Linked DNA regions of Homo sapiens: regions 2, 3 and 4 are each linked to region 1. A link means that fine-mapping ties the variant in region 1 to the expression of a gene that starts in the linked region. Tissue or cell type: blood mononuclear cells. Region 1 holds a variant in brackets; each other region holds the start of a gene. Each region is shown on its reference strand, or each on the opposite one.

Region 1 (6,668 bases):
CCAAGTACCTCTTCTTCCCCAGTAGTCAGCCTGCTCATATTGACTGATTTTATGTCTGTCTCCACTGCCTGGCTGCAAGCTACAAGGGGACAGGGACCATATCTATCTTGCTCATCACAGTAGCCCCAGCTCCTCCTATTACGCTGGCACATAGCAGACTCTCAGCTCATATTTGTTGAAATGAAAATTAAATTGAAATGGGGCTAATCAAAGAACACGTCACGGAGGAAGCAAATCCAGAGAAGATTTTTGCAAGGAGGAATACACCATATTTAAAACTTCTGAGATGGGACCAAAAAATAATATGCAGAATACTATAGTGGGCTGTTTGAAATTTTGAAAGGTAATTCAAATAGGCCCCTAATTTTAATGTTTAGCTTCTTGAAGAGTCCAAACCACTTTGAGAAACGGCTCCTACAGTGTTAGACTGTGGGGGCCTCTCAGATATGATAGAGCTTTCAGTTCCTTCCAGCTGTTTACACACTAATTCCTGAACAAGGTGGACTTGCCAGGAAGGCTGAAACTAGTGACAAAGGGACATCAAATAGCTTATTTTCAAAGACACTGTGCAACATGCTCATCTGCCCTTTTCCTTCCCTTTAAAGGTTATTTCTTTCATTCCCTTCTCTAGGTTTTTGATTCCAGGTTAAACTCTACAAAAATGTTTTTTTCCTCTTAACTTGCCATGCTCACACCTAATGCCATTTGTATCAAAACTCTGTTTTCTTGAGGTGGGCCCCAAGGGGCTGACTTTTAAGGGAGGGGGCAGATTTTGCCTGATGTTTCTGCAAGATTAAACATGGTGCTTATCTGAAGTTCAAGGCTGATGATAAATTATAGACTCAAGAACTTTTTATTCAAAGAAGCCAAAGGAAGAAGGAAACTTCTCTGCTAGCTGCTCCACCAAAGGGGAGTCATGTTCTCCCCTCCTAGAGCCTTACAAGAGATAATTTTGAGAGCTCATTCTGGTTTAGAGACAATACATGGTGAACAAAGCTCATCTGTCATTGAGTGGGAGGTAGGGAGGAAAGAAGGTAAGAGAGAATTAAAATTGTAAAGCCAACATCATGTGGATTCCTCCTTGAACTTTAATAACCCAGTGCTGCCTGCAGGCTCAGAAAAACCAAATGCAATGGGTAGGTACAAGGATTGCTCTGGTGCCAGGAAAATGCAATAAGACATAACTTTTATAAGGTAGGCAATGAAAGAGTGCCCTGCAGGAACAAAACAGGCTTTTAACATCTCCAAAGTTGGCAGCCAGATGCCTGAAACATTGGTTTAGTGCATCCAAAACACACAACAGATAGAACCACTTTCTTTAAGATGAAGTCATCTTCCAGGAGAAACAATAGCTGGGAAGGCTGGGTTTTTATGATTCATGGGAGGAGGAGAATTTGATCTGTATTTTCTTTGCCACAGTCTATCCCATTTTAATGCATGTTAGAGGTTTTCCACATGTTAGGCAAATTTTCTAGAATGTTTTGAAAGGGAAAAAATTCTGCAGACTGCCTCAGTTACTGAAAGAGTTCTCTTTCTCCCCTGGCTGGGGAGGGATCCAGTTCTGTCTCACCGTGTTATCGAAAAGATCTGAAACTACAACTCTTCATTTGGATTCTGCTGTTATGAAATGCAGTTTGGGGTATCTTGTTACACTTTACTCCCAGAAGTGTTAAAGGAAGTGCCTGTCATCAAAATTCAAAAATAAATATAAAAATGATGCTGGCAGAGCTCAAAAACTAAAAGGATCAGCATTTTGCTTCAGTTTCCTGTTCATAAAACTTTATAAAAACAACCCACCCATTTAAAAAAAACCTGTAACAATAGTTCACTATTCTTTTCCTAAATGCTTGCCTCATGCCACTCTGAAATTAGGTGCCATCACGTTTCCTGAGTTATGGGCCCCAAACACCACATCCTTTTCCTCCCTCCCACACCCCCACCCCACCTGGCATCATTCCTGAATTTAGATGCTTCTCCAGTTTCTGAGCTCAGTAGACAGATGCCAACATTCTCCCTCCTACCTGTCCTGAAGTGGCCAAGCATCTGTACCAGCTGGAAGCAGGAATAATTGAGGCTTCCTTCCCCCAAATTAATTCTCACTTCCTAGAGAAGCTTTTAATATGGAAGGTTAAATTATAAAGTGAAGAGCTAGTAAACTGAAAAAGAATAAGATATTTCCCTCCCACTCTGCCTTTACAGCAAAATTTTCTTTGTGGAATACTCAACACTCTGTCCTTCTTTCTGGAAGAACATAGAATACAAGCTCTAGAACAAGCTTTTCCAACCCATGGCCCACAGGCTGCATGCATCCCAGGATGGCTTTGAATGTGGCCCAACATAAATTTGTAAACTTTCGTAAAACGTTATGAGACTTTTTTTTGCGATTTTTTTTAAGCTCATCAGCTATTGTTAGTGTTAGTGTATTTTATGTGTGGCCCAAGACAATTCTTCTTCCACTGTGGCCCACGGAAGCCAAAAGATTGGACACCTCTGCTTTAGAATGAGAAGCCTGGGTTCAAATACCAAGTTTTCACTTGCCAACTATATGACTTTGGACAGTTTACTTAATGATGACAAACATCAGTTTAAGCATCTATAAAATGGGGATATGAGAGTTTCAAGGTTTTAATGAGTTAAAAACACATGAATAATCCAATAAGATAATATGTATGTCAGATTTCTAAGCATACAGTTAGCACGTCATGCTATTATTAACCCTTCCGGTAAATAAATCATCCTTCTCCCTTTTTTTTTAAATGAATTAAGGAAAAAAGGTGGAATTTGGAGAACTTTTCCAACACTCCTTGCTTCCAAAGACATTAATTCTTTGATTTAATCTTATAATTTCAAAAAAGGATATGACTGTTGCACATATATAAAAGAAGCAGCAGAGTGAAGAGTGAACTGACCTAAATTAGAAGACATGGGCCAGGTGCAGTGGCTTACACCTATAATCCCAACACTTTGGGAGGCCAAGGTGGGAGGATCACTAGAGCCCAGGAGTCTGAGACTAGCCTGGGCCACAAAGTAAGACCTCATCTCTACAATAATAATAACAATTATTATTATAACAATTAGCCAGGCACAGTGGCATATGCCTATGGTGACAGCTACTCAGGAGGCTGAGGCAGGGTGATTGCTTGAGCCTAAGAGTTTGAGGCTGCAGTGAGCTATGATCGTGCCACTGCATTCCAGCTTGGGCAACAGAGCGAGACCCCACCTCTAAAAAAATTAAAAAAAAAAAAAAAAGAAGACATGGTATACAATCTGGCCCTACCATTAAGTCTGTGGTCTTGGGCAAGTCAAGTGATCTCTCTGAGACATAGATTCTTGAACCATATAACAAGGTGATTTAAACATAAATGTGTATGCTTCTGTGATTCTATTAAACAGCAAAGACTGAAGTGTATATGGAGTATTATCTTGATTTTATGCTATTTAATTTCAGGAAAGCTTTCAAATAAAAATTCATATCTTATGTACTGATGAAAGCACCCTGTCTAAAATTAGCATGTTTGGTATAGGCAGCCCACATTTTGGGTTGGTTCAGCATGGTAATATTTTATGAAGGCTCATCAGAAAATTAAGCTCAATGTACTCATTTGTCAAGAAATGCATATGCATATAGATTCTTTTAATATCAAATGGCAAAGCAAACAAGAGGTTGAAACAGAGGAAAGATCAACTATGAGAAAAGAATTACTGAGGGAAAATGGAGACAGACTACAAATGGGATAGAACTGGCCTAAAATATACCACTGTCACTTAAAAATAGGTACTCGGTTACATAGTGCCTGTGT[T/C]ATCTTTACAACAGCATTTGGTTCCTACACTGTCTTCTTCCTACAGGCCTGTTATGACTATGAGAGCTATCTGTTCCTTCAGTGGACCAAGTCTTGCTGCCTTGTGGATTCTGCCCAGTCACAGCTTCCCTTCTGCCCTTCAAGGGTGGGCTGCTTGCATCTAAGTGGTAGGGCCATACCTAATTCTGTTCTGGATATAACACAGATGACTGACTGGGCTTGGTGGCTGATGTCTATAATCCCAGTACTTTGGGAAGCTGAGGCAAGAGGATCACTTGAGGCCAGAAACTCAAGACCAGGCTGACCAACATAGTGAGATCCTGTCTGTACACAAAATGTAAAAATTTAGGAGGGCATGATGGTGCATTCCTATAGTCCTAACTACTTTAGAAGCTGAGGCAAGAGGATGGCTTGAGCCCAGGAGTTGGAGGTTACAGTGAGCTATGATTGTACCACTACACTCCAGCCTGAGTGACAGAGCAAGACTCTGTCTCTAAAAAACAAAACAAAAATACACATCTAGATGGTTGCTGGCATGAGATGCTAAACCACAGGCTTCTCAAAGCTGAGGGTTCTGTGCAACCCTGGCCAAACTTCTTACCCAAAATACTTACTTACATTAATGTTGTCCATTTATAAGAATTAGAACTAAAAACAAAGATACCTTGCAGCAACTTCTAAATAGTGCCCCATAAATAACAAATAGCACTAGAATTACTTAATAAATCATAATCTTCATTATTCTCTAGCATCTGTTTCCCCTACTAGATTGTACGCTCCAAAAGAATCATGAATCGCTTGTACAAGGCTACATCCCCATTGCCAAAAGATGCCTGGCAAGTGATGAGAGCTCAGTAAATGATGCTGAGAGCCGAAGAGGTGTTTGCTCTCTGCCAGGCACTGTGCTTTGACTTTAATGAAGTATCTCAAGTAATCCTTACAACAATCCTATGAAATGAGTACTTCTATAGTAGGAGAAACTGAGGCACAGAGAGTTCAAGCAACTTGCCCAAAGTCACACAGCTAGTAAGCAGCAGAGCTGGAGTTCAAATGCAAGCACCTTGCTTCTAGAACCTCAAGTTCCAATTCTGAAGCGGAACGTTAATTCACAGGCCAGTCACAAACCAGGGAGTCCTGAGGCCAGAGCCTATGATGCAAGGGTCAAGGATTTGAGCCTATATGATATGACTGAAAGAACACTGAATGAGAAGCAGTGCTGACTTGGGTCCAGTCCTGTGACGTTTTTGCTCACCAGCTTCCCCTGCTGATCAATCAGGGGGTTGGATGCTCACTCAAGTCCTTGTCAGGTGTCAACCCCAAGTGCTAGAGTCACCCTAGACATAATCTCACATCCAGAAAACTACAGAGCACAGTGTGCTCTTCCACCTTCCACGAGGGAGAACCACCAAAATATCAACCATCAAGCAAGTTACTCAGTCTCTCAGAACTTCAGTTTCCTCATCTGCAATCAGGACCAAATAGCACCTACTTCAAAGGGTGGAGGTGAAGATTAGAGAGAAACCTGGTTAAGGGGCTACCACATAGTAATAATTTCATAAACAGTAGCTAGGTTTATTATGGTCCCAAACAGAGCGAGGAGATAAGTCTGGAGGAGGAACGAATCTCTTCAAAACCCAGGAACCAACCAACCAGTTGGAAAGACAGCTCTGAAACTCAGATTTTTAAACAATTTCTAACAGTAGACTACATGTGTGGCACATCATCCAAGCAAAAAGTTCCATATCAGATTCTCTTTCAACAAATGGAGTAATAAAGACAGGTTTGAGTTAACTTCAGCTGGAACAGAAAGAACCATTATGACTTGGGAAGTTCACACCTGAGTGCTGAAAAGCTAGAAAATAATGTTAGGTGCCATTTGCCTTATGCCAGACCTGTGACAAGCATGTGACATATATTACCTTACTGAATCCTCACAACCTGCTGAAGAGGGTACTGCCCTGTTGTATAAATGAGGGCATGGAGGCTCAGAGAAGATAAGTAACTTGCTCAAGATCACACAGCTACTAAATAGCCATGCCAGAACTTACTTAGTCTGCCAGAACGTTGATGGTCTTAACCACAAAGCTACACCCTTCCCCAAAGATAGCGTGTCATTGGCCCCAGCATGCCCCGTACCCACAGGGCAATCATGTCCACACCATGGGCAAGTGGCTTTATAGGAAGGCCACGCATGGGGGATCAAGTGGCCTTGGGTTTTGGTCCCTGTTTACCCACAGACTGTGGCAGCTATGGACAAGTCATTTAACTTTCCTGGACCCTGTTTTGATCAAACAGAATGTACTGGATTAAAGTTTTTCAGTCCAAGTCTTGTGGAACATTAATCACTTACATTTTATACCCGAGAGGTTAGGGATAAAAGAGGAGCCAAAGACATAATGAGCTAACCCTCTGTCCTGGGACTCTGGCTAGGGGAAGAAGTGGAACACATTTGTTACCAAACAGAACTGGGTGACCCTCAGTTCCCTTCTATCTTGAAAATTCTGAAACTCTACTGAAAATTCTGAAATTCTCCTGAAAATTCTGAATTTTATGTGACAGGAGAGGACAAAGAAGAAAAGGACTTCAGGGAGTCATGTGGGAGGTGGCAGGGTGGCCATCTCAAAGCTATGTTTGCACAGCGACTACAGTGTACATGCTTAGCTGGTAAGCTTATTTGAGGTGCTTCTGGAGTGAGGGGGCTGGTGGAGATAATGGGAAAGGAAGCTAAATTCCTCCTCTTGAAATGACTAGTATTGCATACAGCAAGCACTCTATAGATGCTGATAGAACTGAATTCAAAGGAAAAAAGACCTGGATCAAACTGATAGAAGTTGAGCTGCTGCTCAAGATGTATGAATATCTCAAAAA
Region 2 (6,668 bases), not on the chromosome of region 1:
AGGAGTTCAAGAGCAGCCTGGGCAGCATTGTGAGACCCCAGTCTCTACAAAAAATAAAAAATTAGCTGGGCATGGTGTACACGCCTGTAGTTCCGGCTATCTGGAAGGCTAAGGTGGGAGAATTGCTTGAACTCGAGAGGTTGAAGCTGCAGTGAGCCGTGATTGTGCCACTGCATTCCAGCCTGGGTGACAGAGCAAGACCCTGTCTCAAAAAAAAGAAAAAAAGAAGCCAAGTCACCCAGCACTTTGCACTGGGCAGAAGGGGATACGAATTCTCCTTGCTGGTCTAAGATAGCAGCCTCTTTGTAAAAATAACAGTAATAATAATCAGTTCTGTTGGTAGTTTCTGGTGCCTGTGGTGGAATGACAAGGACACTAGCATAAGTGGCTTGTCTTCCATGGGCCAGGCTTGTGCCTAAGACTGGTCTTCCTAACACAGATGGTCCACCAGGGTGGTTGATAGGCTTCGGTCTGTCTAGAAGCACCATGCTGCTCCTGTGCTTCCAACCCAGGAGGACGCATCACACCCCCACACCACAGGGAGTTCCACGCCAGGGCAGCGTGAGAATCAGACAGACCTGGGTTCTGCCCCCTACTCAGCCACTTTCTAGCTGGGTGGCCTTGGGCAAGTTTGCTGCCTCTTCTGAGATATAAGGTCCTCAGGAGAGGGGTTGTTGTGAGGAGGAAATGGGATAATGAAGGAAAAACCTGAAGCCACAGCATCACTTGAGGCATGTTCAGCTTGCTCTTGGAATTTGGTTCCCTCATTCTCCCCAAGCCAGGTCAGAGGCCTCCAGGCCACTGTCTCCAAAGGCCCCTCTCAGACAAGAGCACTGACCCAAGGCCTCTCTCGAGCAGTCTGCTCACCTGAACGGCCCATGAGAGACAGTCTGCCATTTTAGCCTCTAACACCCACTGCTTTCTGAAGCAACAAGGCCTACCTTCTAAGACACCTGCATTAGTGGAGAGATATCTGCCATCCTGGCAAGGCAGCTGGGACCCCAGATTCAGACCGCCAAGAGTCTTGGGCCTTCAGTAGTCGGAGTCCTGTAATGAGACAGAAGCAAGAGCTCAAAGGCTCCCGCGATGCAGCCTTGGCCCAGAAGAGGATTTCCCTGTGGAAAACTGCTGGAGTGCCACCACAAGGCTGTGGGACAATAGAGAAGGGCCCGGGAGGAAGGAGTGGAGAGAAAGGGGGAGAAACAGAAGGTAAATCTCTGGAAGGACAGTTGGGGAGGAGATACGTGTATGGGCTTCGGGAACAGAGGAAAAAGGGTTTTGCTTGAGTGACCTTGGCCAAGTGTTTAAAATCTGTGTTTGTTTGGCTGCCAGAATGGAGGGAGTGACACTTTCTCTTGTGCAAAAGGTATGCTCTGGGCCCAAAGATTCAGAGGGGTGTTCCTAAGGAAGGCCAGGTGGCTCACCAGACAGGCATTTCCTTTCATCAACTCACCACAGTCCAGAATCTGTGCATGGCCTGAGAAGCTCCCAGACCTGATTTATTGGCATATGGATGGTTCACGTCTCAGGAGTTAGAGTGTCCAAGAGCACAAGAACTGGAGCATAAATCCCAGAAGGCCAGGGAGCAGACTTGATGGGTACAATGGCTCAGGGAGTATCTCCCACCCAGAGGCTTGGCATCCCAGGGACCTATGGAAGTGTCTTGCTTGTGAAGCTTGGAATAAGAGTCTATGACTTGCTTTATTGATCTTAATCAGGGTCCCCTGTCTAAGTGGCTTGTGGGCCTCTCACCATCCTTCCACAGCATTGCCACAGAAAGGTAGGTCTCTATTTGGTTAGCCTCCCTGTGTTCTCTTCAGTGTTTGGGCATCACCAAGTTCTTTGGGTTTCCTTTTCCATCCTACCAGGCCAACCACTTGCCTTCTGTTCTCCCTGCCTTTCCCAAAAGAATGGAAAGCAAATTGCTTGGTTTCCACTTTGTAATTACACTCCTTTTGGGAATGTCTCCCTGGTCACCTTGAATGGCACTGGAGGTAGCGGGGAGGGAGTCTCAAACTCTTAAGTCACATCTTCACAGACTGATTTTTATTTCACTGTAAGTGGCTGTTCTCACCCATTGTGTAAAATCTAAAGAGTCTCGTTCTCAAATGGAAACTTTATTTTCCATACCTTCATGCTCTGGGTAGGGGAGCCCTCATTATCATGTATGGATAACATTTTCTTCACAGGGTGGAGGTGAGGATTAAATGAGATAGTGGCATGGGTGTGCATTTGTATTTGAGTTCTTAGGCCAATGTCTCACAAATCACTCAATAAATCACCATCCTACAACTCCTACCCACCACATGACCAATATGTGAGAAGGGAAGAACAAACACAAGAGCCTCAGCATCTTAGTCTTTGCCAGAAATAAAGCTGGGCTATGGAATAGGAAGGAAGAGGAAGCTGAGGAACAGACATACAGTTTTGATATTTGTCCCCGCCCAAATCCTCATGTTGAACTCTGATCCCCAATGCTGGAGGTGGGGCCTGGTGGGAGGTGTTTGGATTATGGGAGTGGATCTCTCATGGCTTGGTGCTGCCTTTGCGATAGTGAGAGTGAATTCTTGTGAGAGCTGGGCATTTAAAAGTGTGTGGCACCACCCTTGCCACTCTCCCTCTCTTGCTCCTGCTCCCCCTTTGGCTTCCACCATGATTGTAAGCTCCCTGAGACCTTCCCAGAAGCCAAGGAGATCCCAGCACCATGCTTCCCATGAAGCCTGCAGAACTGTGAGCCAATGAAACCTCTTTTCTTTAAAAATTACCCAGTCTCAGGTATTTCTTTATAGCAATGCAAAAAACGGCCTAACACAAACAGTTAGTGAAAGAGGGGAGCTACAGCTCAAATTTTCTCTATTCAACACAAGATCTTTATTGCGTCTCTCCCCCTGGGCTAGACACTGTATTACAGCACCCGTCCTTAAGAAACATAATGAGGTCTAGACACATCAAAAATCCAACTATGTAATCTAAGTGTCAAGGTCTGTGGATATAAAATGGGGTCCCATTTACTTTTATTGTCCACATGACAATGACTTGGGCTCCCACCTCATCCAACCTTCCTTACAAAAGGCATTTCCCAGTTATTTGGAGCAGTCCCCAAGGGCATATCTTATATGCTCTTAAAACAACCCACTTATTTACAATCACCACACAACATCCATCATATTCTCCCTCTCCTATTTCAGGTGCCCTGTCCCATGTCACAGCCCTGGTAGCATCGGAGGGAGATTCTTAGATGCCCCTTCTGAAATCACCAGTGATCTTCGGAGGGTACCATCTCCTGATGCTCTCAATATCACCACTATCTAGAGCCCCAGATCTATGTCGGTGTCACATTTTGTCTCCTGGGCCCCAAAGCAGCACTGTTTGAGCTCGGAGTCCATAAATTATCTCACCAAGAAGACTTCAGACCTCCCATTCTTCCCCTCTATGCCTCACTCCCTGCAAGCAACTTCCCATGCCCTAACCCAGTGAGGGCGTATGTGGAAATAGCCAGCCAGCTAACCTATGCAGCTGTTGATCAACCATGCCTACCAACCAGAACAGTAAAATGGTTTTGCACCTACCTGGCTTTGAAGACAAGCAGTCCTGGGTGCCAGAGTCAGCAGCGCTCCTGTTTATTAACTATTTGACTTAGGTATACCATATCTTATACTCTGAGCTGGTTTCTTCATCTGTAAAATTGAGATAATCATGGTAGCGGCTTCAGAGAGCAATTGTAATAATTACTTGACATAAATCATGTAAAGCACTACTTCCCAAACTATTTCCCATAATATATGCCAGTGGAGGGCTCCTGTTAAATCTATGGGTTCCAGGACTTTACACCAAGCCTAGTGAATCAGATCTTCAGGGAGGGGCTCAGAATCTGTATGCTGAATGAGTGTTCCAAGTGGTTCTTTTGACCTTATGGGAAATGCTCAGTAAATAGTAGCTTTGCAAAGTCACAATTTACATTACCAATATCTATAGTCAGTTTAACAATGATGTCACAATTTCCATCAAGAACAATGAGTACAATGTTTTACTTCTGGATAACAAAAGGGCCATTCTGAGATTTTTTTTCTTAAAGCAGCAGTCTCCTCCAAAGGTAAATTAAGGTCTGTAAATTTAGATTCAGAAAATGATCTGTAAATTTTATTTTATCTTATTTTATTATTGTTTTATTTTTTGAGACAGGGTCTCACTCTGTCACCCAGGCTCAACCTTCTCATTGCAGCCTCAACCTTCCAGGCTCCAGTGATCCTCCCTCCTCAGCCTCCTGAGTAGCTGGGACTACAGGCATGTGCCACCATGCCCGGCTAAGTTTTGTATCTTTAGTAGAGACGGGGTTTTGCCATGTTGTTCAGGCTGGTCTCGAACTCCTGGGTTCAAGCAATCCTCCTGCCTTGGCCTCCCAAAGTGCAGGGATTACAGGCATGAGCAACCACACGGGCCCATAAATTTTAAATGAGCACTTATCCTGCTTTTACCTACTAATGTTTCAAAAACTTTAGGGACTGATCATATACAGGTAGCCCTATTATATCATATTCTCTGTAGGGTCCTGCATACAATAATCATCTTCAGAATTATGTTAGATTCACATACACAATGTCAACACATGTACAATTTTTGAAATACACCAGACTCAGAAACATAACCCTTGCAAACCTTGGGAAGTGTTCATATATGTTTTTATTACTCAATTTTTTCATCCTCTTAAATCTTCCACCCAACTGTGATCAATCAAGGCTATCCTTTATAATCATGGACTTTTCTGTGATCTTTTCTACAAAAACTTTCATCTCATTTCTGAAGCATCACTTCTCTTCTAATATTGTCTTGTTTTCCAACTCATTACACTGATACCTTCTCCTCAGTGTGAAATTACTGACATCGATGAGGTGTGAATTCACCCTCCTGGGTTCTGCTCCTGTACGAGTTCTCTGGAGAACCATGAGTCATGGCTTCCAGATGAGACCCTTTGCCCATTTTTGTCCATTGACTTATTGGAGTAAGCTGTCGATAAGAGTTTCTCTATGTCAAATGAGGGTTGAGCTATATTTGAAGGTTTACCCATGTTTTGTAGACTACAAGCCTTTTTCATACGAATCTTCTGATGTTCCAATTCCCTTTTGAGGTGGTCTCTGGTATCTCCACTGGCCTTTTATTTATGCATTTGCTTTTGAGAGGGGCTCACCAAATTGCCCTCCACAGACCTACTGGGGGGGCCCTGCTGGCCCCTTCCACCCACCCAGATCACAGCAGAAACATTGAAGGCAAAACTTCCAACTTGGATCCCTTCCAGGAATAATAGTAATATCAACTATTCTGCATTCTGCTCAAAGCTCTATCTAAATCATCCCATTTAATCTTTAAAATGGCCCTTCAAAGTGGATATTATTACAATACTCACTTTAAATGTTTGGTTCAAAGAACTTAAACAACTTGTTCAAGGTCATTGAGCCAGTAAGTAGCAGAGCCTGATCCTTTGGACACTAACTATAGCTTCCAGTCTCCGTACTGTTGCCCCAATTCCCTCTCACTTTTCATCTTCTTCCTAGTGACTTAATGGGAGCCCCAATCTTGCCAAGGGGAAGTCCATAGTCTTTAACACTTTCAGCCCAGCTTGGCACCGAGACCTTGCCCAGCCCAGCTGGACTTGCATGACAGAGAGGCTTTATTCTCCAGTCCTGTGTTCCTCCACAGCCATTCTCTGAAGGATGAGGTCATTCTTCATAGAATTACTTTCTGCTCCTCCAGCCATACTCCCCTAACTGCAGCGCCCCTCAACACACTGTAGTCTCCCAGTTCCAATTATCATCACCAGGCTGAGTGGGCCCTTGGAGACACCTCCAGGAAGGAGAGGACTAAGTTAAAGTCCAGGCAGCAAAGATACTGTATTATCTATCTCTGTATAACAAATTACCCCAAAGTTTAATAGTTTAAAACAAAAAACGTTATTATCTCCCAGTTTCTACGGGGCAGGAATATGAATGAGTCTTAGCTGGATGCCTCTGGCTCAAGTTCTCTGAAGAGGCTGCCATCAAGCTGTTGGCCAGGAACATGGACTCATCTGAAGACTCAACTAGAGCTGAAAGCTCCAATCCCAAGCTTGCTCACGTGGTTGTCATCAGGCGTCAGTTCCTTATGAGTTATGAGGCTAAAGATCTTAGTTCCTCGTCACACCACATAGGCCTCTCCAAAAGACCACTCACAGTATGGCAACTTGCTTCCTCTACCACATGTGATTCAGGAAAGACAGCAAGAGAGAGCACACCCAGGGTGCAAACCACAGTCTTTTTATAACCTATCTCAGAAGTGCCGTTCTATCATGAATACTGCATTTTATTTGCCAGAAGTGAATCATTAGTCACTTAGTGGAAGGAAATTACACAAGAGCACAAATAACAGGAGATGGAGATCATTGCCAGAGCAGGGGTTGCAGGGTGGTCGGGACTTGGTAATCCCACTGCAGGAAAAGCCATTTAAAGCCTTGGCCCAGTACTTGCATCTCAGGATGTCAAGAATAAGAGATCATGGCTGAGCATGGTGGCTCACACCTGTAATCCCCACACTTTGGAAGTCCAAGGTGAGAGGATTGCTTAGGCCAGGAGTTCAAGACCAGCCTGGGCAATATAGCAAGACTCTGTCTCTACAAAAACAAATGTTTTAATTAGCCA
Region 3 (6,668 bases), not on the chromosome of region 1:
GAGCCACTGTGCCTGGCCCAATACTCACTTTTTCTTACCTGCAGTTGTAAGATAGTTGCTATGCAATCTGATCCCTTTTGTCTCACATTATGAAAATATGTTCCTATGTTGACCAAAGGAAAGCTCGTTAACTCAAAATGAGAATGATATCCTCTGAAGATGCTGTAAACAGAATTCTATTCAGGACCAGAGAAATAGATTGTGTAGCCTTTTGCGATCTCAGCCATGACTGGGCACCACCATCAGCACAGGTGTAATCAGGTAAATAATTGGTTATGCTATCTGCGAGGATTTCAGAGATACAAGATTCCTACTTGTTTCCATTGTTAACAAGTCCTTCCAATCCAATGATAGTGATAAGAATAACAATTCAAATTACTTGAAACTTCTGTGTGCAAGATAATATTTCAACTTTTTTTTTTTTTTTTGAGATGGAGTCTCACTCTGTTGCCCAGGCTGGAGTGCAGTGGCACTATCTCAGCTCACTGCAACCTCCATCTCTCAGGTTCAAGTGATTCTCATGCCTCAGCCTCCTGAGTAGCTGGGATTATAGGTGTGTGCTACCATGCCCAGCTAATTTTTGTATTTTTAGTAGTGAAGGGGTTTCACCATGTTGGCCAGGCTGGTCTTGAACTCCTGACCTCAGGTGATCCACCCACTTCAGCCTTCCAAAATGCTGGGATTACAGGCGTGAGCCACCACACCCAGACAATTTTTCAACTTTTTAACAAAAGTTCTCTCTTTTAGAGTGGATATGTAAAGAGGTTACTGGATATTTGAAAGATGGGGAAATTTTGCCCCAAAAGTTAGCAAAGCAGAATATAAGAATGAGTTGTACTACAGTCTCCCCAGTACTTTTGTTCTCATGCAGGAGAAATTTGGGGCAAAATTTCCCTCACTGCTGTGGATCATGGACATTACCTATAACAGAAGTGCATTTAATACTTTTGTAATTGCTGAACCTCAGTGAGAAAGAGTAGAAGTTAATTGAATTCCTCCCTTCTAGAATTTTCATTAGTCAGGGCTTCTTGGAGAGTTTGTTTTTGGCTGTATTCTAGCAGAGAAATGCCAGATACAGGGCTGGTCAGGGAAAGCCACTGGCCCAAGTAAGGAGAAAGCATATGCAGTGTCCTCAGTGATGAGGTATCTCTTGAACAATAATTTGAAAATTATTTTAGTCTCCAATATTACAGCTAGAGAGACCTTATAACTTATCACCCAAACATGAACTCTTTTGAAGACTGAAGGGTTCTATTAGTAATTGTGTCAGAACAGCAGGAGTAAACTCGCAGTCCTGTGCAAACTGAGATATGCAGTGACCCTAATTATATAGACTGAGGGTATTTTCCAACACTTGTTAATTCAAGGAAATTGTGAACTTGTGAAATCTCTTTTTATGGATTCCATTTGTTCTGCTTTTCAGAATTCCTATAATGAGTGGCAACTCTTTTTGATTTTTTTTTGTCAATAAGATGCCGAATGCCCAATGCCCTTGCATTCCAGTCTTTAGAAAATGTCCATGTAGATTAATGTAGATCCTGTTTTAAAAATTTGTTGAGATAAAAGTCTAAATTCATATAAGATTGTTTCAGTTATAAAGTCTAAAGCAATGCTTGTCTTTATAGTAAAACATACAGTATGAATATGTCCTCACTTAAAGTTATTATATAATACATAATAATCTTTATTAATAATAAAAAGCATTATATTTGTTAAAAATTAGAAAAAGCAAGGATAAAGTTAAATATCAAAATCTGATTTTTCTCCCTCTTTCCATTTCCATTCCCCAGAAGTAACAGCTTTTAACACTTCTGTATACTTCCAGGTAATTTTATACATATATGAATACTGACCAATATGATTATATTCCCTTATGTAAACACATGGAAGCATGCTAAATACATGTTCAGAAACTTGTTTTTTTCCTTAAGGATTTGAATGTTTTTGTACATGTATATCTATATCTGAATTTATATCTATACCACATTCCTAATTTTATTGACAGCTGCATAGCATGTCAATAATATGCAGCTGTCAATAATATGCAGGGACTCATTTGAGAGGCTATAAAAGCTTTCCCTGCCATTTTATACTGAGAACTGTAGAATAAGTGAGCAAAATTGAAATACATATTGAATAATAGTTTAAAATTTATGATCCTATCCTTAAATTGACATTTTTACACTAACAAAATTATAATAAAACAATAGAGGGTGGTGGTAGCAAGATAGATGATTTGGAAATTTTTAACTGGTAGCATTGACTTATATTAGTACTTAGCAAATTTAGGGCTCTGAACAGCCTCTGCCCCGAATGTCTCAGAGTTCCTGTGTCATATGATACTTTCATTCACATTGCTGTGTGCCATTATACCAGGTAATTTACATTAAAGATCACATTTATACTTCACATCAGATAGTTATTATTATCTCTGTTGTTAAAGTTGATGGTATTGGAGTTGTGGAGAGAACAAGATAAATATTACCTCACAGAGTCATTTTTTATTGGCAACCCCAGGACATTTAAAGTTCTGAAAATCATACATAATTTTTCTCTGAGCATCAGAAGATGACTACAGTTCCTTTTGTCTACACTTTGTACCACTATCCCAGGAAGGTATTATTATACTCATTTTATAGGTGAGGAGCTTGAAGCTCACAAAGAGTAAGAAACATTCCCAGGAGGATGTAACTAATGACTTATGTAGTAGGGACATGGACCCAGACTTGTCTGCCTCCAAATTCCATGCTACTAATATCTTTTTATTCTAATTTGATAAGGTCTTAGAAGGCAAAAGATGTTTCCCTGAGATGTGTCTAATAGCTTGCTACAGCCTATATGCATAGTTTTTGAGGCGGTCTAAATAATTTTAATTGTTTCACATCGTATGTTCCCATTCATAAGTGGGAACTAAGCTATGAGGAATGACACAATGGACTTTGGGGACTGGGGGGAAAGGGAAGGAGGGAGCTGAAGGATAAAAGACTACACATTGGGTACAGTGTTCACTGCTCAGGTGGTGGGTGCACCAAAATCTCAGAAATCACCACTAGAGAACTTATTCATGTAACCAAACACCTCCTGTTCCCCAAAAACCTATTGAAATAAAAAAAAATTTAAGAAACTAACAAATTGTTTGTTTCAGATGACAAGGCAGTTTCCTTAACATTGAGAAATTAGAGTGAAAAAAATGTGTTAGAGATTATGACCGAATCTAATAATAGCTATCTATGTGGACAGTATTACAAAAATTAACCAAATGACAAAAAATCAAAGAAGAAATTTTGTGAAAGTTGTTTAAAATCAGGAATCTACTTTTTACATTTTAGCTTTCACTTTTGCAGTGATGATACAGATATAGAAAGATTAAATTTTAGAAATACTTTGGTAATTATGAGCATTTTCAACTGTATATTTTTCATGTAATAAAACAAGCAATATCAATTCTGTAAATATCTTCAAACAGGTAGTAAAATGACTATAAGTAACTGAAATAGTTAACAAATATGTGTTAATTGACTTCCTGAATTTTTCTGTTTCAGGAAACCAAGAGTTGAAACATTAATCATGAATTGGGTAAATGACAGCATCATACAGGAGTTTATTCTGCTGGGTTTCTCAGATCGACCTTGGCTGGAGTTTCCACTCCTTGTGGTCTTCTTGATTTCTTACACTGTGACCATCTTTGGCAATCTGACCATTATTCTAGTGTCACGCCTGGACACCAAACTTCATACCCCCATGTATTTTTTTCTTACCAATCTATCACTCCTGGATCTTTGTTACACCACATGTACAGTCCCACAAATGCTAGTAAATTTATGCAGCATCAGGAAAGTAATCAGTTATCGTGGCTGTGTAGCCCAGCTTTTCATATTTCTGGCCTTGGGGGCTACTGAATATCTTCTCCTGGCCGTCATGTCCTTTGATAGGTTTGTAGCTATTTGTCGGCCTCTCCATTACTCAGTTATCATGCACCAGAGACTCTGCCTCCAGTTGGCAGCTGCATCCTGGGTTACTGGTTTTAGTAACTCAGTGTGGTTGTCTACCCTGACTCTCCAGCTGCCACTCTGTGACCCCTATGTGATAGATCACTTTCTCTGTGAAGTCCCTGCACTGCTCAAGTTATCTTGTGTTGAGACAACAGCAAATGAGGCTGAACTATTCCTTGTCAGTGAGCTCTTCCATCTAATACCCCTGACACTCATCCTTATATCATATGCTTTTATTGTCCGAGCAGTATTGAGGATACAGTCTGCTGAAGGTCGACAAAAAGCATTTGGGACATGTGGTTCCCATCTAATTGTGGTGTCTCTTTTTTATAGTACAGCCGTCTCTGTGTACCTGCAACCACCTTCGCCCAGCTCCAAGGACCAAGGAAAGATGGTTTCTCTCTTCTATGGAATCATTGCACCCATGCTGAATCCCCTTATATATACACTTAGGAACAAGGAGGTAAAGGAAGGCTTTAAAAGGTTGGTTGCAAGAGTCTTCTTAATCAAGAAATAAGAAATATGCAAATGATAAGCTTTGCTAAAGACAAAATGTTTACTTAGCTTACTAACTTCTCTGTAAGTTGCCCTATTTTTGTTGTTACTGTAGAGAACAATGTAAACTCCCTCAAATAAAATTTCCTTGATGAAGAGCTATATTTACTTCTGTTGCCTTAATGTTTTCATTGAACAAGCCCCCAGAATTGACCTTCCAATTCACCAAAAATTGTAATCACAACATCTTCAAGGTTTGTCAAACATCCCATCAATGCTTGTACAATTCAATGTAAATTAGATCCGTAGAAAAGCCAGAAGTTCTTTCTCCAATATCACACACACACACACACACACACACACACACACACACTAGTTAAACGAGGCTCACTGAAACTCTCAAACCCCACCACTTCAAATTTGGATCTGAGGTTAACAATTCTAATTTTAAATTTTCCACTCCCGCATCAGCATAAGGAAATCTATAATAATTTTTATTCTAAAATTGTAACCAGATTTTCCATTTTCTTACCATATTTCTGTACTCATGTTTTTCCTACTAAATGAAGGCATTCTTTTTACTTCCTTTGCAAATCAAACCCTAGATATTTATTAGGTCCAGCTAATTTTCTTTTACATGAATTTTTTTTCATAATTCTCCCAACTATCAATATTATCTACCGTTCTCTTAAACCCTAAAGCACTTAACAGCTTAGATTCCAAAATAGCACATTATGTAATGATTTCCAAAGAGTTCTTGTTTAGTACTTTTGTCTTGCATAATAATAGTCTAATTATATTTTATTCTTGAGGGTACAAAAACTATACCATACATTTTACCACAACACCTTTAGAAGTCATCATAGTGCTGAGGAAGTAGCATGCATTTACATTATTAGTTGATTCTTTTGATTGTTGAGTGATTCATTTACATTATAATAATTTAACAACCTTGCTACCCTTCTTTATCCATTGTTTTCTTCTACTAATGCATTATACATGTAGAAAATACAATAGCTTAAAATATATTTATCATGTTTCTTATGAAAACCTACAGTAACTCCATGTACTTTTGCCATAATAAAATGTTAACAGAGAAATAAATCTGGTTTGCCAAGTTCTGACTTCAGTTTTCTCTCCTAATAGGGATAATTATCATAAAAAACATACATGGAAGCAAAATACTGATAAAGTATATTTAAAGCTTAAGACAATAATTTTCTCACTGAAAATTAATTCATTGCTAAAGGTCCAAATAAATGACAGATCAGATTACTGGAGACAAATGTGTATCTCAAAGCCAATGTCAGTGTAGTTTGGTGAATTATGAGGACATAGAAGAGAAAACAGAATTCCAGAAATTGAAATAGTTAATTTTTAAATTGAGAGGTTAATTGATTTAATTAATTTTATAATTGTAGATTTGGTTTTTAACTAGTATTTATATTGGTGTGCTGGTGTATAATTTTATACTGGTAACTTCTGTAACTAAGCTATTATCAGTTACCTTGAGAATATAAAAAATATATTAATTATTCATATAGAACAAGACATATTAAACTATCTCTCCTTTTTTGCAATTCTGAGAAATTTATTTTTCTAATACAAACCACTTTTAAGTTTTTAAGTGGTTTGTATTTTAAGGAGAATGTATTTTGGATTTTTTTTATACTTGTAGTAAAATATACATAAAATTTGCTAGTTTAACCATTTTTAAGTGTACAGCCAGTGGCATTAAGTGCATTCACATTGAGCGTCAATCTCCAGAATTTTTTCATCTCCTGAAACTAAAACTCTGTACCCATTAAACAATAACTACCCATATTCCATATTCTGTCCCCACCAGCCTCTGGTAACCACTATTCTATTTTCCATCTATGATTTTGAATACTCTAGATACCTCATATGAATGAAATCATAGAGTGTTTTTGCTTTGTGGGTTATTTCACTTAGCATAATGTCTTTAAGGTTCATCCATGTTGTAGCATGTGTCAGAATTTCTTCCCTTTTTAAGACTGAATAATATTCTATTGTATGTATATACCACATTTGGTTTATCTATTCATCAGTTGATAGGTACTTGAGTTGCTTTCACCTTTTGGCTATGTTGAATAATGCTGCCATGAATATCGGTGTATAAATATCTGTCTGAATTCCTGCTTTCAGTTATTTAGGGTATAT
Region 4 (4,000 bases), not on the chromosome of region 1:
TTCCTTAAATAGGTCTCATCTCCCCCCCACCAATCAGATGGGAGCCCAGAGAAGAAAGGGTCCACGTATTCTTCCGTCAGACTAGGGACTGTGAAGACAGGAACTGCCTCTCCCATCAGAATGGAGGCTCTCTGAGGGCAGTAGTGTTGTCTCCTTTCTGCCTCTGAGAATGAAGATCCTGTGTTCTTTATTCAAGAGCCCATTCCAGGGTCGAGATCCTCTGCTGGCTGGAGTCCTCCTCTTCCAGGCACCCTCTGGGCTGGATTGGGGTTTCCTGCTCAAAGCCATTCTCGGTCCATCCTGATTCAGCACAAACTGCTCTCTTTTCTTCCCTTCAACAACTAACTTTCTGGGGTGTGTAGGGGGACCCTCCCTACATTGTGTCCAGGGGGTCACCAGACCCCTCCCACCCAACCCTCTCCTTCCAAAACTGAGCCTAGAAAAATTAGACACCAAACCCGCCCCCACTCTCACTCCCACACACACCCCGCACACTCTCTCACACACACACACACACACACACACACACACCCCCATTCAGCCAGGTAACTGCACAAGGGTGGGATTGAACCGGTTCCTCTGGATACCCTTCCCCCCAAGGCTTCCAATCCTGGAGAAGGAGCACCAATGACCTTTGACCCTTCTCTGGGAGAAAGGGAGGCAGGTGAGCTCACAGCCTCTTGGGACCCAGGAGAAGGAGAAAGGAAGAAAGGGCGCACAATTCCTGGGGAGGGAGCGGGAGCGGGAGCGGAAGGAAGTGAGGAGTAGGAAGAAGCAGAGACAGACACACAAACTGGCGGAGAGTCCACAGGGCTGCTGAGAAGAAAGAGATCACACCGAGAGTGGGGCCACGGGAACTGGCACTGGGAACAAGGGCTTCCGCCGCTCTAAGTGACGCCCGAGGGTGGGAGAGAAGGGAGAAGCCCTTCGGGCAGGCGATAGGAAAGGGCCCCTGAAGAGGAGAAAGCGACAGAGAGAAGTGCAACTGGGAGAGGCCGGGAAGAGGTGGATGGGAAAGGAGACTAGCGGTCGGGGAGGCAGTTGTGGAGCCAGAGAGGTGGTCCCCCCTTCCCATATCGCCGGCCGTCCACTGGCCCCAGGCTTGGGGTAGTCCTCAGGAGTCGGGCACCCCCTCAAAGCACTGTTGGAGATGGGGTGAGGTTGGGGACAGGGCACCTACTCCACTCTCAGAGCCCTTCTCCCCAGTCAGAGCCCGGTGGCTAGTTTCTCTCCAAACCATCAGCACAACTCCCCGCCGGGCAAGAAAGAGTTAAGCCCTCTCCCCCTCCCCCCACACCAGCTTTTTATTAATTTCTCCGGGCGTCGGGCGGGAGGGAGGGGATTAGGGCCATAAATCCTATCTCCGCCCCCTCCCCTGACAGCCCGGCACCCCAGCCCCGTGCGGTCCCCCTAGGGATAGGGGAAGAAAGGCCCTTGTCGCTTAGCCCTGCCCAACCCCACTCAGGGTCCCACCGCGGGCCCGAGTGGCCCTAGCCCCAGTTCCCGGTCCACCCCAGGGCGCCCGGCCCCTCACCTCCGGCATCGGTCATCTTCAGCGTCTGGCGCCCCGGGAACCCCTCAGGCCCATGGTGCTCGAGGCGGGGGCCGGGCAGGAGAGGGGTGGGGGGACCGTCACCCCGGCCGCGGGGGGCTCCGGGCGGGCTCGAGCCGCTCCATCCCGGGGGTGGGGGTGAGGTCGGCGGGAAGGGTCCCAGAGCCGGGGGAGATGGAGGGCGGGGGATGTGGGGAGAGGGAACAGGTTCGCTGGAAGCAGGAGGCGCGGGCGGGGCTGGACCAGGAGACCTGACGGGAGGATGCTCCGTGTGTGTGTGCGTGTGCGTGTGCGTGTGTGTGTGTGTGACAGAGAGAGAGAGAGAGAGAAGAGCGAAGAGCGAGCGCCACCTCCCTCCCCGCCCCTGCCGCCCGCCAGGCCTGGCCGGACGCGGGGCCCCCGCCTGGCAGGGCCGATTCGCGCGGCGTCGCGTCGGCAGGGGTCCGCGGGGGTCTCCGGGGAAGGGGCGTCGGGGTGGGGGGCGCGTGGCGGAGAAGCCGGGCGCCCAGGAGACAAAGAGCGGGAGGGAGCGAGGGGGCGGGGGCGGGGGAGGGCGGCGGGGAGGAGGCGGCTGGGGCCGGGGAGCGGAGTTGCAGCTACTTCTCTGCCCGCGGGAGACGCGGCGCACCGGAGTCTGCGCGGGTGGGAGCGGCTCCGGGGCGGTCCCGCCACGGGACCCACGGGGCTTCCGCCTCCTCTGCCGGGTCCATCAGGGCTCCCGATTAGTTCATTCATTCAACAAACGTCCGCCGAGCAGCCGGGGCGCCGAGGCTGGAGGGGACAGCGGTGAACAGAACCCCCGCCCCCTAACTGCGCTCAAGGCCAGTGGGCCAGTCGGGGGCTCAGACGAGTGGGGAGGCCCTCACGAGCCTGGGCGCCATGGGCCCAGCTAACAGAGGGCACTTCTTGCCGGAAGGGAGAGCGCACCCCTGGCCCGGCCTGGGTCCAGGCGGCCGCGGCGGGAGCTGGGCTGGGGGATTCCCAGAGGATGTGATGTGTTGGCTACAACTGCGGGCCAGGGTAGGGAAGTGCCAGGGGGTGTTGGGGGTGGGAGGGCAAGAGGGGAAGATAAATTGAAGCTGGGGAGGTGCAGGGGGCTTGCACTTTATTCTACCAGCCGCCCACCCCGCCGCCCACACACACACACACACACACACACACACGCGCGCGCGCGCACACACACAAAATTAAGAGGAGGGAGGGGCTCAGGTGTGCATTTAGGAAGCACCCTTGGCTCCCCTGGAGACAGGGTTACAGAGGGCACTCTGAAGGCAGGGAGACCCGCTGGAGGCTATTGAGGGCCGGTGGCAGTGGGCATAAAGATTACAGATTAAGCTGAGAGCCCTTCAGGATGCAGGCCTGAAGAAGCTGACACCGAAGAAGCTGACAGGATTTGGGGACCTGCTGGACTAGGAGGTGAGGGAGGAGGGGTCTAGGATGGCTGTGGACCTTGGCTTGAGGCAGGAAGCCCTGGAGCAGGTGGGGGTGGGGACGGATGAGATCAGACTTGGACCCAGTGCGCTGATGGTAGTGGCAGGCCAGCCAGGGAGGCAATGTAGGGATCCACAACCAGCTACCGCACGTCACAGCTTGGCAGGTGCCAGGCGCTCTCAGATCATCTATTGTCACCCTCACAATAAACCCACAAGGTGGGTGTTTCCATTACCCACTGCCTCAGAGAAAACAGAGACTTAGAAGAAGGAAAGTGCTTTGCTCAAGAGCAAGTGGTGAAAGGCCAGGCGCAGTGGCTCACGACTGTAATCCCAGCACTTTGGGAGGCCAAGGTGGGTGGATTACATGAGGTCAGGAGTTCGAGACCAGCCTGGCCAACATGGTGAAACCCTTGTCTCTACTAAAAATACAAAAATTAGTCAGGCATGGTGGCGCTACTCTGGAGGCTGAGGCATGAGAATTGCTTGAACCTGGGAGGTGGAGGTTGGAGTGAGCTGAGATTGTGCCACTGCCTTTCAGCCTGGCCAACAGAGTGAAACTCAAATCTCAAAAAAAAAAAAAAAAAAAAAAAAAAAAAAAAAAAAAAAAGGCAAGTGGTGAAGCTGGATCAGGGGTCTAGAGTCAGAGGAGAGGTGTGGAGTCTATAGGACAGAGTTCCCTGATGGCCCACAGGACTCTGCAGTCCGAGGCCTCCGGGAAGTGGCCTGTTGAACCAGGACAATCTTGTGACTATGAGTGAGGACAGAATTAACAGCCTTTAGGGTCTGAGGGTATCCTAGGGGATTTATAGGAGTTTGGGGGTCTCTGGGTGTCTTCAGAATCTTCTGGCAGCCATGAGGCTAGATTGTGGAAATCTGGGGAAGGGGTGGGGTTTCTGTTGACAGCTGTGGGGGCTGCATCTGGCTGTCTTAAAGGGGTTGTGCTTTGTAGGCATCTGGTGAGATCTGAGTGGTGGGCTGTAGTGGGGGGCTTGATTATATAGACCCTGTACATCCC

Evidence for each region. PIP is the estimated chance that this variant, and not a neighbour inherited with it, causes the effect.
Region 2: it holds the start of LINC01992, and the variant in region 1 is fine-mapped to the expression of LINC01992 in blood mononuclear cells (TOPMed, PIP above 0.99).
Region 3: it holds the start of OR2B6, and the variant in region 1 is fine-mapped to the expression of OR2B6 in blood mononuclear cells (TOPMed, PIP above 0.99).
Region 4: it holds the start of SAMD14, and the variant in region 1 is fine-mapped to the expression of SAMD14 in blood mononuclear cells (TOPMed, PIP above 0.99).

Annotation. Positions count from the first base shown.
Region 1 is chr3:56,811,921-56,818,588 of GRCh38, forward strand. It overlaps a transcript of ARHGEF3 not described here. Among named protein-coding and RNA genes, the nearest start is that of ARHGEF3, 13 kb to the left of the region's middle. The variant T/C (reference allele first, on the strand shown) is at 3,801.
Region 2 is chr17:27,987,824-27,994,491 of GRCh38, forward strand. It overlaps LINC01992 (long intergenic non-protein coding RNA 1992), which reads right to left and starts at 3,884. Exons shown (of 5, transcript NR_146896.1): 1 at 3,570-3,884; 2 at 942-1,047.
Region 3 is chr6:27,953,674-27,960,341 of GRCh38, forward strand. It overlaps OR2B6 (olfactory receptor family 2 subfamily B member 6), which reads left to right and starts at 3,568. Exons shown (of 1, transcript NM_012367.1): 1 at 3,568-4,509. The coding sequence starts at 3,568. The coding sequence ends at 4,509.
Region 4 is chr17:50,127,983-50,131,982 of GRCh38, forward strand. It overlaps SAMD14 (sterile alpha motif domain containing 14), which reads right to left and starts at 2,178. Exons shown (of 10, transcript NM_001257359.2): 1 at 1,535-2,178. RefSeq lists silencers at 1,894-1,953, 2,194-2,273.